Linked DNA regions of Homo sapiens. Changing the gene in region 1 together with any one later gene gives a genetic interaction. Each region holds a gene or a part of one and is shown in the gene's direction. Other genes may lie near its edges.

Evidence for each region. Genes that interact genetically often act in the same process or in processes that back each other up.
Region 2: of TWIST1 (region 1) and KAT2B, changing one suppresses a phenotype caused by changing the other (phenotypic suppression), as found in Homo sapiens cells (one study listed by BioGRID).

Annotation. Positions count from the first base shown.
Region 1 is NC_000007.14:19,114,950-19,122,620, reverse strand, and holds TWIST1 (twist-related protein 1), read left to right. Parts: upstream 1-4,984; 5' UTR 4,985-5,299; coding exon 5,300-5,908; 3' UTR 5,909-5,950; intron 5,951-6,489; 3' UTR 6,490-7,153; downstream 7,154-7,671. UniProt on the Homo sapiens protein: Acts as a transcriptional regulator. Inhibits myogenesis by sequestrating E proteins, inhibiting trans-activation by MEF2, and inhibiting DNA-binding by MYOD1 through physical interaction. This interaction probably involves the basic domains of both proteins.
Region 2 is NC_000003.12:20,120,426-20,127,447, forward strand, and holds part of KAT2B (histone acetyltransferase KAT2B), read left to right. Parts: intron 1-2,242; coding exon 2,243-2,379; intron 2,380-5,479; coding exon 5,480-5,688; intron 5,689-6,997; coding exon 6,998-7,022. UniProt on the Homo sapiens protein: Functions as a histone acetyltransferase (HAT) to promote transcriptional activation. Has significant histone acetyltransferase activity with core histones (H3 and H4), and also with nucleosome core particles.

The DNA of each region.
Region 1 (7,671 bases):
ACATAGTTTTCATATAGTTTTCAATGTAAAGACAACCCAAATGCCTGAAGTAGAAATTCAAACTGTTAATGGCATTTTGAAAAATCTTTTAGAAAAAAAAAATAAACTGTTTTTCATTGCCAAACATGGAATTAAGTAAAATTCAAAGTCACCAAGAGTTTTCTACAAAATTATGTCAACGTAAAATAAACATTTTCCCTTAACTACATTAGTATATTTAGTATATTTTCTTTATGTTCTAAGAAAGTACAAATTATAAAATCTTCAAAAGTTTGAATGCTAACTCATGTTTTTTTAATTAATAAAAATGGCATAAATCAAATAGACATCTCCAAATGATATTCATTAATTGTGTGTTATTTTTGCTGTTTTGTTAGCTTTCCTCTTCTCTGAGCTTCTTTCTAAACAAAGTTATCTGGGAAATTGTGTCCTCTTGTGGTGACTGGCAAAAACAACATGTTTTCTGCAGAAAGAACCAAACCAAACAATAGCAGCAGGACATAAGGCTTCAGGAAAACCCATTTGTGAAAAACGGAAATCCCTTCCAGTGAAGAAAGGTGAAAGTTATGAGTAATCAGAAAGAGAAATTGAATTGAAAAAACATAGAATGTAAATCATTCCATTTATATTTAAATTACTGGTCATCGGATGATTAAAAAGAAGACACATAATGCTATGTAGAAAGACTGAGACCATGATAATAGTTCCTATGAATAACTATTTATTTCTTGCATTCTTTCATCAGTTATTCCAGCAACTCTTTGATACAAGTGAAGTGAGTGTGTTTTCCAACAAGGTTAATGGGCAGCTAAGACACCAACTCTCCAGCCTGCACAACCCCTGAAAAAAAAAATGAAAAAAAAAAATGCTCTTCAAGACTCCATACTTTTCCATATTCTGATCCTGCACTTTCTACAGGTTAGACCTATGTCTCCTCATCCCATCCTTAAGCTGAGTTCAGAATGTCAGCTATTTTAAAGATTAACATTTATTTGAAAATTTCACTTGCGGTACTGTTCGCACCCTAATTTATTGTGTTTTTTACTTTTTCGTTTTATTTCTGGATTGAAAACTTCACATTTTATAACTTTAGTTTGTTTTTTTTACTTTTAAAGATATTCAGATAGAAAAATGTAGAATCAGTTGAGTTTATGAATCAAATCATCATTTAAAGAGAAAGAGAATGAGTTTTTATATAGGGAAAGGTGTTCAAACATCATTAAGGCTACCAGGGTCATGAAAGAAGAATAAGCTTTTACACAGTTATTGTGTTGACATACATGACTTTATATTCCACCTTACTAAAATTCTCTCATTTAAACAGCAGTCCCTCTGGAGTGTTCAAAGCAAGATGAAATCTAAGATATACAACCTCATCTGATATTCACTCAATTGCAGCCTTTCTAATTTTCACTCCCTTCCGTGCGAATGCTCCTGTGCACTATTTATGCAATTCAGATAAATTATTTCTCAGAACTCGGAGCCAACAAACAGGTGATAGGCCATCTAAGGTCTGAGGAGAAAGAAGAGTAGGAACAGATTGAGGTACTCACCTTTTATGCAAGCCCAAACTCCAGAATTTACCAGTTGGCTAACCATTCTATAGTGTGTGTTTCTTTTCCGTATCTAAAAGTATTTATAATTGGTTGTTGCTAAGAGAATGTCACAGCATATTCAAACTGCCAGGATACTTAATACTTATTGTATATGTTCAATGTGAGATTTCTAACTCTGTTACTTTTAACAGTATTTTTTGTTTCAATTTTTAACACAGCACACATTCCTCAGGCAGGATTGCAAACATGCCAAGTTTGCAGTTTGAAAACAAAGATCGTTTTGAACTATCCAAGTACAAAAGAAATTTTTTTTTTCAGTTAAATTTTTTTGGGGAGGACTTTACTTTAGAAGGAGGCAAAATGACTGAATTCCAGTTAATCTAGCATTCCCAAAGAAGGTAGTCCCCACTGACATACTTCCAGTTAGGCTAACTTCAGCCTCAAAAGAAAATTTCTAAGATTGTTTTCATGATCTCAAGATTGGGATTTTAGAAAGAAGCTTTCAAATTTAAACTAAACATTGCAGAAGTTGCAATTATTGTTGCATATATAAGAGAATCCAGAATTATACCTGACCTGTCAACAAGTAAAAAGGGAGCCATCCTTGCAAATGTGGAAAAGAAAATTGTTAGGTAAAATGTTAGATAAGAAAGAGCTGTATATGAGCAGACTGGACTCGTCAGCCAGGGCGTGTTGCAGTTTGCAAAGCAGGGAGTATCTAGCTCCAGCCATTTTTTGAGAGGTACCTCCTGGACTACTTTTGCTCCAAAAGTAACATTCAAGCCCCACTTAAGAACTCAAAAGTCGTCTCATCCTCCACTCCCCGGAACAGTTCAAGAGCCATTTCTTCTTAGAACTAGTCATCAATTGTGACTGTGGCTGAAAGAGTCCATGGGCAGGATGGTTCTGGTTAGGTGTTCATTTTGAATTCCCCTCTCAGTATTCTGGCATCAGAGCGTCGCCTGAGCCTTGCGGGGATCCCTGTACCCAATGGCCAGGAGCTCTTCATCAGCTAGAAGTTTAGTGCCGGGAAAAGGGCTGGGCTCACTTGTTTAAGAACCAGTCTTTGAGACTGATGACTTTGCAAGATGGACTGGCTAATGACCCCTGGCTGCTGCGCTGCTGTGGACTTGGTTTCTCCTCTAGCTTGTCCGCTCCCCTCCCCTTCCCAAATTCCCCTTGGTCAGGTAAGATTTCCTTTACACTTTACCCACACTTTCCTGTCTTACTTATCCGTGGCCACAAAGGAAAGAGTCCAATCATTCGATCTCTTTATTTATTTTTGAGAAAAGAGAAAAAAAGAACAAAACAAAAATAAGATTTATCTTTAAAAAAATAGCTGAAGTGGAAAAGGTTTCGAGATTTCTGCAGCCACGTTCTAAATAAGAATTGCAGAATACTGTAAATTCAGATTTACAAAAAGAACACTTGGTGGAGAGTGGGGCAGAATTTCTGCCGCATTCTCTAAGCGCTTCCAAGAGATAAAATCCTGTAGCGGAAGATGCAAACGCAAGGGTGCAGGGGTGACTGTTTTGAGAACTGCTAGAGTGCTACTGAAATTAAGTGGAGGTCAAGTCGAATCTGATTTTCAGACAATTTTACAGTAAGGCAGCGGCTCACTAAACAGGCCAGTTGACAAGCTGTAGTCACTTTCTGAGTATTTCTGTAAAAATGGTAAGGGATCAACTCTGCAATTTGTCCCTCCCATGAAAGCACAGTCTTGTTTACACCTCGCTGGAGAAATAACACTCGCCCTCACTTCTCCCAAAAAGCTGAACCCTTCAGTCGGCCCAAGCAGCTCCACACCCTGAGGTTTCCAAGACCAAAGCTGCGAGTCTCAGCAGGGAACAGCCACGTGGCCTGCCTGCGCCTCGCCTGGGCTCTTGCCTTCAGCTTGAGATATCTGCAGCCGCGAACCTTGCTCCAGCCCAGAAAGGGGCGCTTTGCTCAATTAATTGTTCCCGCCGGCGAGTCCGTACTGAGAAGCCCATGAGCGGACCTTATGTGCAGGGTACTCCAGCGCGGTGCACAAAACTCGTCGCCCCCAAACGCTGCCCCCACCCCAACACTGTGTACTGACTCCAGCTTTTTACTTTGCCATGTAAGGGATGGACCTGAAACGGTTATTTTACCTCAATTCATTTCAAAAAGGAAACAAGTATGGCATTGCAAAAGATGGGCTTCTTATCCAAGGCGACTTCCTTTCTGGTTCACCAACTTTGCTGCTTCCAGTTTGCCAGGATCTACATTAACACCCTCTTTGGGGCTCTTCGTTTTAACTTACAGACAGAAATGCTTAAAATGTTAGCGTATCCAAGCATTTGGAATTGGGGCTCACGAAGCCTAATTGTCCACTGGATGCCCTAGATAGTGGGGGCTGGGGCGGGGGGGGTCTCAGAGCGGGCAGCCCCTATGTCTAGGCGCTATCAAATTCCCACTTCACTCTCTTACAAGCTGGCCTTTCAAGGTCACAATGCGGAGCCTAATTTGGGGGTGGGGATGAAATGGCCACAGGGTCTCTCCCTTGGGTTGGCATTGCCAGCTGTTAGGGCCGCAGCAAAGGCGCTGCGCTGCCCCCCTCTGGCTCTGCTGCCTTTCCCATGGACTGGGTTTCCTTCCACCGAAGAGTGAACTTCTGCCTCTTTCGAGCACCTTCCGAGGCGTAGTCCTTTGGATGTTGGGGAGCGTCAGACTGGGTCGTTGTAGAGGGGAAAGGAGGGCCCAGAAGGGCGAGAGAGCAGGCCGGGACGCAAATCCTCAGCCCCCGCGGCGCGGCCACGTCTTCAGAAACGCCCAGGACCTCCGGGCTGGGCCGCCGCGGTTTGGCCTTTGGAACTCCAAGGGGTTCGTCTACCTGACCATTGGGTGGGCTCCGCGGTTGACACTTTTCTTGGCATGCCCCCCCACCCCGCGCCACACCACCCCCCCAGCCCCAGCAATCCCAAATCGGCCCCACGGACCTAGAGGGCTCTTGGGCGAGATGAGACATCACCCACTGTGTAGAAGCTGTTGCCATTGCTGCTGTCACAGCCACTCCGGATGGGGCTGCCACCGCGGCCAGGACAGTCTCCTCCGACCGCTTCCTGGGCTGCGCTAGGGTTCGGGGGCGCTGCCCGCACGCTCCGGCGGGGAAGGAAATCGCCCCGCGCCCGCCGGAGGAAGGCGACGGGGAGGGAAGGGGGAGGGCGGCTAGGAGGCGGGTGGAGGGGCCGGCCGCCCGGGCCAGGTCGTTTTTGAATGGTTTGGGAGGACGAATTGTTAGACCCCGAGGAAGGGAGGTGGGACGGGGGAGGGGGACTGGAAAGCGGAAACTTTCCTATAAAACTTCGAAAAGTCCCTCCTCCTCACGTCAGGCCAATGACACTGCTGCCCCCAAACTTTCCGCCTGCACGGAGGTATAAGAGCCTCCAAGTCTGCAGCTCTCGCCCAACTCCCAGACACCTCGCGGGCTCTGCAGCACCGGCACCGTTTCCAGGAGGCCTGGCGGGGTGTGCGTCCAGCCGTTGGGCGCTTTCTTTTTGGACCTCGGGGCCATCCACACCGTCCCCTCCCCCTCCCGCCTCCCTCCCCGCCTCCCCCGCGCGCCCTCCCCGCGGAGGTCCCTCCCGTCCGTCCTCCTGCTCTCTCCTCCGCGGGCCGCATCGCCCGGGCCGGCGCCGCGCGCGGGGGAAGCTGGCGGGCTGAGGCGCCCCGCTCTTCTCCTCTGCCCCGGGCCCGCGAGGCCACGCGTCGCCGCTCGAGAGATGATGCAGGACGTGTCCAGCTCGCCAGTCTCGCCGGCCGACGACAGCCTGAGCAACAGCGAGGAAGAGCCAGACCGGCAGCAGCCGCCGAGCGGCAAGCGCGGGGGACGCAAGCGGCGCAGCAGCAGGCGCAGCGCGGGCGGCGGCGCGGGGCCCGGCGGAGCCGCGGGTGGGGGCGTCGGAGGCGGCGACGAGCCGGGCAGCCCGGCCCAGGGCAAGCGCGGCAAGAAGTCTGCGGGCTGTGGCGGCGGCGGCGGCGCGGGCGGCGGCGGCGGCAGCAGCAGCGGCGGCGGGAGTCCGCAGTCTTACGAGGAGCTGCAGACGCAGCGGGTCATGGCCAACGTGCGGGAGCGCCAGCGCACCCAGTCGCTGAACGAGGCGTTCGCCGCGCTGCGGAAGATCATCCCCACGCTGCCCTCGGACAAGCTGAGCAAGATTCAGACCCTCAAGCTGGCGGCCAGGTACATCGACTTCCTCTACCAGGTCCTCCAGAGCGACGAGCTGGACTCCAAGATGGCAAGCTGCAGCTATGTGGCTCACGAGCGGCTCAGCTACGCCTTCTCGGTCTGGAGGATGGAGGGGGCCTGGTCCATGTCCGCGTCCCACTAGCAGGCGGAGCCCCCCACCCCCTCAGCAGGGCCGGAGACCTAGGTAAGGACCGCGCCGCTGCACCCCTTCGCCTCTCAGGTGGCAGACGGCAGGCCGGCCAGGCCGCGGTTCCCAGTCCACCTCGATTTCCTCCCCTCTCCCACTCTCCGCTCAGCCTTCCCACCTCACTTGGCACCGTTGCCTCGCGCCCCCAGCGTCCCCGGAAGGCCGGTCTGACCCCGCTAGGGAGAGCAGTCTCCAGGGGGATGCGCCCTGGTGAGGGGTGTGTGTGCGCGTGAGTGTGCGTGACAGGAGGGGAGACAGAGACACCCAGGGTCACGGGTAAGGACCGTTTTGTCAGCGCCACCCTTTCTTTCGGCTTTCAATTTTTGTTCTCCTTAAAACAAATGTTTTAAAACAAATTCCACCTCCTCCTCCTTTCCACCCACCCACTTCCTCTTGCCCTTGGGCTGAAATCCTTCCAGGTTGTTCAGCTTAATTTCTCAGTGGTGGTGATAAGAACAGTGCTCACTAGTCTTAGAAAACAGCCGCAGAGACCTAAACAATAACCGACTCCCCCCCCCCCCTCTGGGTTTTTGCAGATGTCATTGTTTCCAGAGAAGGAGAAAATGGACAGTCTAGAGACTCTGGAGCTGGATAACTAAAAATAAAAATATATGCCAAAGATTTTCTTGGAAATTAGAAGAGCAAAATCCAAATTCAAAGAAACAGGGCGTGGGGCGCACTTTTAAAAGAGAAAGCGAGACAGGCCCGTGGACAGTGATTCCCAGACGGGCAGCGGCACCATCCTCACACCTCTGCATTCTGATAGAAGTCTGAACAGTTGTTTGTGTTTTTTTTTTTTTTTTTTTTGACGAAGAATGTTTTTATTTTTATTTTTTTCATGCATGCATTCTCAAGAGGTCGTGCCAATCAGCCACTGAAAGGAAAGGCATCACTATGGACTTTCTCTATTTTAAAATGGTAACAATCAGAGGAACTATAAGAACACCTTTAGAAATAAAAATACTGGGATCAAACTGGCCTGCAAAACCATAGTCAGTTAATTCTTTTTTTCATCCTTCCTCTGAGGGGAAAAACAAAAAAAAACTTAAAATACAAAAAACAACATTCTATTTATTTATTGAGGACCCATGGTAAAATGCAAATAGATCCGGTGTCTAAATGCATTCATATTTTTATGATTGTTTTGTAAATATCTTTGTATATTTTTCTGCAATAAATAAATATAAAAAATTTAGAGAACCTTAGAGTTTGGTCTATATTTTTAAAACTAAAGATTAAGTTGGTGGTAAATACCTGCTTGTTTAATTCTAGAGGCACCCAGGAGGGAGGGGGCACTAATATAAACAAAGCAATGAAAAACTCAAATAAAGCAGCTACTGACAGGCACAAGCATGTTATTTTAAAAGACAGCTTTATTATTATTCCAGTTTGGTATTCAGAGGGCTTAGTAGCATCTCTTCATCTCTTACTGTCTCCAAACAGCAAAAACTTAACAAATTTGCTATTCACCTCCTTTTTATTTTGAGGTGATAGTTGTTAAAACAGTTAAATGCAAATAAGGAGTATAAAACCTGCACTATTCTCTTATTATGTACTTTTTGTCATGCTCTTCACTCTTTGTGAAGATTCCTAAATAACAGGTTCTTTTCAGTGAAAACATATATAGTGTTATGAAAATTATCTATACACATATAGAAATGACCAGAAATGCATAGAAAATAAAGTGTAAATCAGCAGAAAAGAGAAAATTCCATTTG
Region 2 (7,022 bases), on another chromosome or scaffold:
CCATATTGGTCAGGCTGGTCTCAAACTCCTGACCTCAGGTAATCTACCTGTCTCGGCCTCCCAAAGTGCTGGGATTATAGGTGTGAGCCACCATACCCTGCTGACTTCTGCCTCATTCTGTCGTCCAAAGCAAGTCACGTAGTTGAACTCAGAGTTGAGAGGTGGAGAAGTGGAAAAAGGTAGTCTATTCCTTTCGTAGGAATAACTGCAAAGTCACATAGCAAAGAGTGTAGATACCAGGAGGGTAAAGAATTTGGCCATTAATGTAATCTACCACATGGGCAAAAATATCTCTTGAGCCTAGAAGCATTTCACAGTTAGAGAATGTTTTGAAGGTTGCATTTCTGTCCACAGACTTGACGTCAGACAAATCTTGGATGTGACCAAATTTTTAAATAAAAGAAGTACCATGAAAGAGGGAAAGAAGAGGACCTTATAATATAAGAAGTGCCATATATTTAGCATATGCCACCATTCCCTTTCACTTCCAAGGGAGATATCACTAATTCATGCAGAAACTCTTTACCAGTGAGCTTGGATTCAGCCTCAGACTTTTTAAAAAAAATCATAAACACCATTAGCAGTCTAACAAGCAGAGGGCATATCAAGTACAAACCCCAGCTACGAAATAAATAGTTTTCAGCATTACTCTTAGGGAATCATGGAATTTGAGGACTTATTGGTCAGATGTCTGAAAATATTGTTACTTGTCTCCAAAAACAAACAACAAAAAATTGTAAAAAAAAGAACTCGACAAAAGTGATTTAGTAAATAATATGTAATACTTCTGGAAGAATCGTCTACAGTCAAGTTACTTTATACTGTTCTGCTCCTTTTCAACTAGAGATAGTGAGAATGCTATGTGGAGAATGTTATATTGAGATAGCAGTGGGATTCACATGTGAGGAAATAAATTAGATCTAGACATCTTAAAAATTCAAAAAATTTACTTGTAAAAATAAATACATGTTATGTCTGGAAAAAACTGGAAAAACCAAACATGAGAATAGAAAGGAGAAAAAAACTACCATGCAATCTCATGAGGAAAGCGGAAGAAAGTTCTCTCTGCCTTTGCATGGCTCTCCTATTGTGTGGAATGGTGAGATTGCATCTACTTGATAGGCTAGTGGTCCTGCTCACTTTGTGAGGCATCATTTTAGGGCAAAAAAGCATTGTAAAAGATAAAGTGTGTCATTTTATAATAGAAAATTAAATCCATAAATTTGTTTATTAAAAATAATTTATGGTATATTTCAAATATATAGCTATATATACATAATATATATGCATACATACACATATGCATATGTGTGTGTGTGTGTGTGTGTGTGTGTGTGTGTGTGTGTGTGTGTGTGTGTATAGCCAAGCCCAGCACAGAGATTCCAATCAGTGGGTAGACTCATGAACAAGCCTGCCAAGATTGAATGAGATGAGCTGAAATCAGCCACCCATCAGGAAACATACGAAATGAATGAGCTATGATAGTAAGTTATTATGGTTTAAGACTCATTTGGGGTTGGTTTATTACATAGCAATAACTAACCAATAAAGCCCAAAGCCTAATGCAAACTGATTTCCGTACATATATGGTGGGGTGCCGGTGGGGGCGGGGTGGAATTAACATGACTACAAGGAGAAATAATCAAATCAACCAACGGTTGAGGCTTTAAACAAACAACTGAGTAATTCATAGGTCAAACAGACAAAAATATCAGTAAGGCTCTTACTGATATCCATACAACATGATCTGTAAGCTGAAGCTAATGGAGTTATAGAGATCAAAATATGAAAATACACATTCTTTCCAAGAAGACACTGCACATTTACAAAAGATTGGTCTTATTTTAGGTCATAAGGTAAAAATTTCAATCCATTTTGACGTTTTGGTGTCATATGGACCATGTTCTCTGACCTTGAAGAGACTATATTAGAGAGTACTAACAAACAATAGCTAGAATCACCCCTTTGCATTTGCAGATGAAGGAACATGTGCCTTAATATTTCATGTATCTAGTTAAAAATCATCATAGAAAGTAGAAAATATTCACAATGAATTGGGTTGGCAGTTATTGTGAGCTCACAATGGCTCTCTTTCCTGTCTTCCTTTGTCACCCCTTCCCCTGGTGGTAAAGATAGAGTTGACCTCCATGCCCATCAATGCTGTTAGAAAATTAGTTGGCGTGTATTATTTGTTTTGTGTTTAGAACCACCCATTGTTTGCCTTTTATTTTGATCATCATAGGAGAAAAGAGGAAAATGACTGATTCTCATGTTCTGGAGGAGGCCAAGAAACCCCGAGTTATGGGGGATATTCCGATGGAATTAATCAACGAGGTTATGTCTACCATCACGGACCCTGCAGCAATGCTTGGACCAGAGGTCAGCAGGGTAAACCTGGGCAGCCAGCTGGTAGACCTCTTCTGCTCTCCTGGCCACTCCAGCTGTCAGAAGTGGGGATGCTAATGCTGAGAGTTAACATGTTATGCTACCCTGGTTTGCATTTAACCTGGTGGTCAGTGTGGAGAGGGCAGGAACAACTGATCAAGAGGTAATTCCCCTTGATGAATATCACATCACAGGTCCACTTACTAATAATCTCACAGTTGAAGGCATCATTCCCAGCTTTTTATCTTGAAAAATTTCAAGCCCTCATAAATGTTGCAGAAATTCTGTAATAAAAATCCATAGACTCTTTACTGAGATTCAGCAGTTAACATTATGCCACATTTGCTACCTCTCTTTCTCTCTGCGCCTCCCCATATGCTCTTTTTCTTTCTCTCCCCACTCCCCATGAACCATTTGGAACCATTTCAGAATTAAAAACACATGTCATAATACTTCACCCCTAACTATTTTTGCATGTACTGTATCTCATAAGGAAGCTATTCTCTTACATAACCACAATGCAGTCATTACTCTTAGAAAATTTAGCCTGGTTACAATATTTTCTAATACAGGGTTGGTGAATTACAGCCTGCAAGCCAAATCTGCTCCACTGGCTGTTTTTTTCAAATAAAGTTTTATTGAAACATATTGTTTGCAGCTGTCTTTGCATTACAACAGTAAATTTGAATAATTGAGACAGGGAATGTGTGGCTTGCAAAGTATGAAATATTTATTATCTGGCTTTTCACTGAAAAGTTTGCTGACCTCTGGCCTAATATAAAACCGTATTTAAATTTCCCATATAGCCAGATGATGTCAGTTATAACCTTTGTTGTTGTTGAAGGATCAGTTAGGGATTGTGCATTGCATTTAATTCTTATCTCTTCATTTGTTTAGTCTCCTTTAAAACAACTCCCCAGCCTTGTTTTGGTCTTTTGCAGCACTGCCATTGGTGAAGAGTCTTGGTCGCTAGTTTTGTATAAGGTCCCTCTTTTTGGATTTGTTGATTGTTTACTAAGGATTAGATTCAAGTAAGGCATTTTTGGTAAAAATGCTGCTGTCATCTCATTGCCTTGCATCTGAGGGCATGCAAGGCAATGACATTTCTTAAGACATACCTGTCTTAAGACATTTCTGACAGCTTCCAGGAAATGAAGAAATGGCTTGGAGATTATATTACAGTGTTAATTTTCAATTTGTCATGTTTCTTTAAATATTTATTTTATGACATTGAGGATACTTCAGAGAACCAGAATGTTGTAATAGAAAAATCTCTTCCTAAAATTGATCTTTCCATTTCCTCCTAGATGTCCAGTCTGTGAGGGCTTAAGACTATAGTTTTTTAGGGATTTAGTAACATTACAGATTAGCTGAGTTTAGGTTTTTTTCAGCTATAAAATGGGGATTTGTACTAGTCTATTGCATTGCTACAAAGAAATACCTGAGACTGGGTAATTTATTTTTTTAAAAAAGAGCTTTAATTGGCTCACAGTTCCACAGACTGTACAAGAATGGCATCAGCATCTGCTCAGCTTCTGGGGAGGCCTCAGGGAACTTATACTCATGGTGCAGGGTGAAGTGGGAGCAGGCACATCACATGGTGAGAGAGGGAACAAGAGAGTGAGGAGGAGGAGCCAGACCCCTTTAAACCACCAAATCTCATATGAACTAACTGAGCAATAACTCATTCATCAACAAGGGGATGGTGCTAGGCCATTCATGAGGGGTCTGCCCTGATGATCCAACACTTCCCACTAGGCCCCACCTCCAACATTGGAGATTGCATTTCAGCATGAGATTTGGAGGGGTCACACATTCAAACTACATCAGGATGCAGTCACATGTTTGAAAATATTTTGGATATATTAATATTTAGTAGTGTACTAGAGCTGGCTTGTACTGGAATGCACAAGAAAATTGTTAAATTTTCAGGAGTTTTGTGAGCTGGTTGTTCCATATGTTGGTAGCTTGAAGTTGACTAGCATGGCACCTGGTTACCTGGATAGCCAGTTCTGGACTAATGAGATGAAGTGTCACCAGTTAGGGCCTTCCTTCCTTGAAGAGCTGTTTGTGGAGCATCTACTTGCAAACCACTAGGCAGATTAAATAAGATGGGGAGCATAAGTGCTGGCACATGGTTGTGCTTCCAGCTATGGTTGAGTGTAGGTCAACAGATATTCTCTGGAAAGAAAACTGTTCTTTAAAAAGAGGTGTTAAGAATATATACATGAGGCCGGGCGCGGTGGCTCAGCCTGTAATCCCAGCACTTTGGGAGGCCGAGGCGGGCAGATCACGAGGTCAGGAGATCGAGACCATCTTGGCTAACACGGTGAAACCCCGTCTCTACTAAAAAATACAAAAAATTAGCTGGGCGCCGTGGCAGGCTCCAGAGGCTGAGGCAGGAGAATGGCATGAACCCGGGAGGCGGAGCTTGCAGTGAGCTGAGATAGCGCCACTGCAGTCTGGCCTGGGCGAAAGAGCGAGACTCCGTCTCAGAAAAAAAAAAAAAAAAAAAGAATATATACATGAGTGCTACTATTGGGCCTGTAATGAGAATTTGAATCTGTCATCTCAAGGGTCCTTAAAGCTCAGCTGGAGAGGATTCCTTGAAGCCAGAGGTTGGCAAACTATAACCCACAGGCCACATTTTGTCTGCTTACTGTATTTTTAAATAAAGTTTTATTGGAACAGTACTGCACCCATTCTTTAACATATTGTCTGTGGATGCTTTTGCATTATAGCAGAAGAAGGAGTAGTTGTGACAAACACCTTATGGCTCACAACGTCTAAAATATTTTCTATCTGGCCCTTCACAGAAAACTTTGCTGGCCCCTAATCTACACTGAATATCATCCGTGTACACATATAATACTCCAATTTCTCAAAATGCTTTACCTGCCTTTTCTGTCTTGTCTTCATAACTTGTATGTGTATGTGTCTCTGTGTGTATGTGTGCACACATGTGTATTTAGGACTCTGAAAATCCACAAATGTGTATCTTATTAGAACAAAGATGAGAAGCTTGGATGTGTCCCATCCCCACTGTCTTGAGAGAATAGCTCTGTGTAATTTTTTCCTGTCTCTTGCATCTCAGACCAATTTTCTGTCAGCACACTCGGCCAGGGATGAGGCGGCAAGGTTGGAAGAGCGCAGGGGTGTAATTGAATTTCACGTGGTTGGCAATTCCCTCAACCAGAAACCAAACAAGAAGATCCTGATGTGGCTGGTTGGCCTACAGAACGTTTTCTCCCACCAGCTGCCCCGAATGCCAAAAGAATACATCACACGGCTCGTCTTTGACCCGTAAGTGGTACTTTCTGTTCCTTCTTCCTTATTTCCTTTTTAAATGAAAGAGGAACTGCTTAGATAGTGAAAGTCAGCCATAGTCATCCACCGAATACTACTGCACCTGTCTTGCTGTGGATACAGAGCTTCACCAAGCTGATTTTCATGTCTGAAAGTGCTAAGAGTAATTTTCAACAATTTACAAATTTTCTTGTTAATGATGATGAAACTTTATATTTTACATTGCTGATGACTCTCCTGTGCTTCATTCTTTATAGCAGTGAGAGAATGTAACACTAAGATGTTCTGCTTTCTTCATAATCAAAATATTGGTTTTGGTATCTTAACTAGGTGCCATTATTGCCCAGGTCTGTGGGCAATTATTGGGATATAAGACAGGTTAACTTTGAAAATCCATTGCTTAAAAAAAAAAAACAAAAAACTAGGCCGGGCATGGTGGCTCATGCCTGTAATCCCAGCATTTTGGGAGGCTGAGGTGGGAGGATCACCTGAGGTTGAGAGTTTGTGACCAGCCTGACCAACATGGAGAAACCCCGTCTCTACTAAAAATACAAAATTAGCCAGGCCTGGTGACACATGCCTGTAATCACGGCTACTTGGGAGGCTGAGGCAGGAGAATTGCTTGAACCCAGGAGGCGGAGGTTGTGGTGAGCCGAGACCGTGCCATTGCACTCCAGCCTGGGCAACAGAGCGAAACTCCATTTCAAAAAAAAAAAAAAAAAAACCCACGAAACCCTAAAGAACTAAACTTCTCTAATTGAATTTATTTTAACATACATAGCCCAGTAGCCTATGGGGACTGTGATCCATGCCTGTGACAATTCAGAGTGATGCTTTAGACAGAGGGAAGGATTCCATAATGCGGAATTTTGCAAATTGTATATGTAAATTTTAAATTCTTTTTCATAATGTTTCTGTAATATTTTGGAGTAAGACTTAACTCTTCAGAGACACATACCATGTTTGTCCATGACTTCCTGCTCTCCCTGACCCCTCCTTGGCACTGGCTGTGCCAGTTCCAGAGCACCTCTGCACATACTCTGTTCTCTATTTGTAAACCTCAGGCACTTCTTAGGTGACTGGTATTTTGTTCTGATGGGAGTGCTGATGACATCTTGTGCAGGCGACCTAGCTCTAAAAAGTTCAGATAAAAGGATGGTCTAGCGAGATAGGGGCTACATGAAGGAAGTTTCTATAGAAACTTAGGACATGTCCCTCTTTCTTAGTTGGTTAATAAGGAACACCCCAAAAAGTATATTTATATAACTAGGATAGGTAAAACTTTGACATAATCTTATTCTTTCAGGAAACACAAAACCCTTGCTTTAATT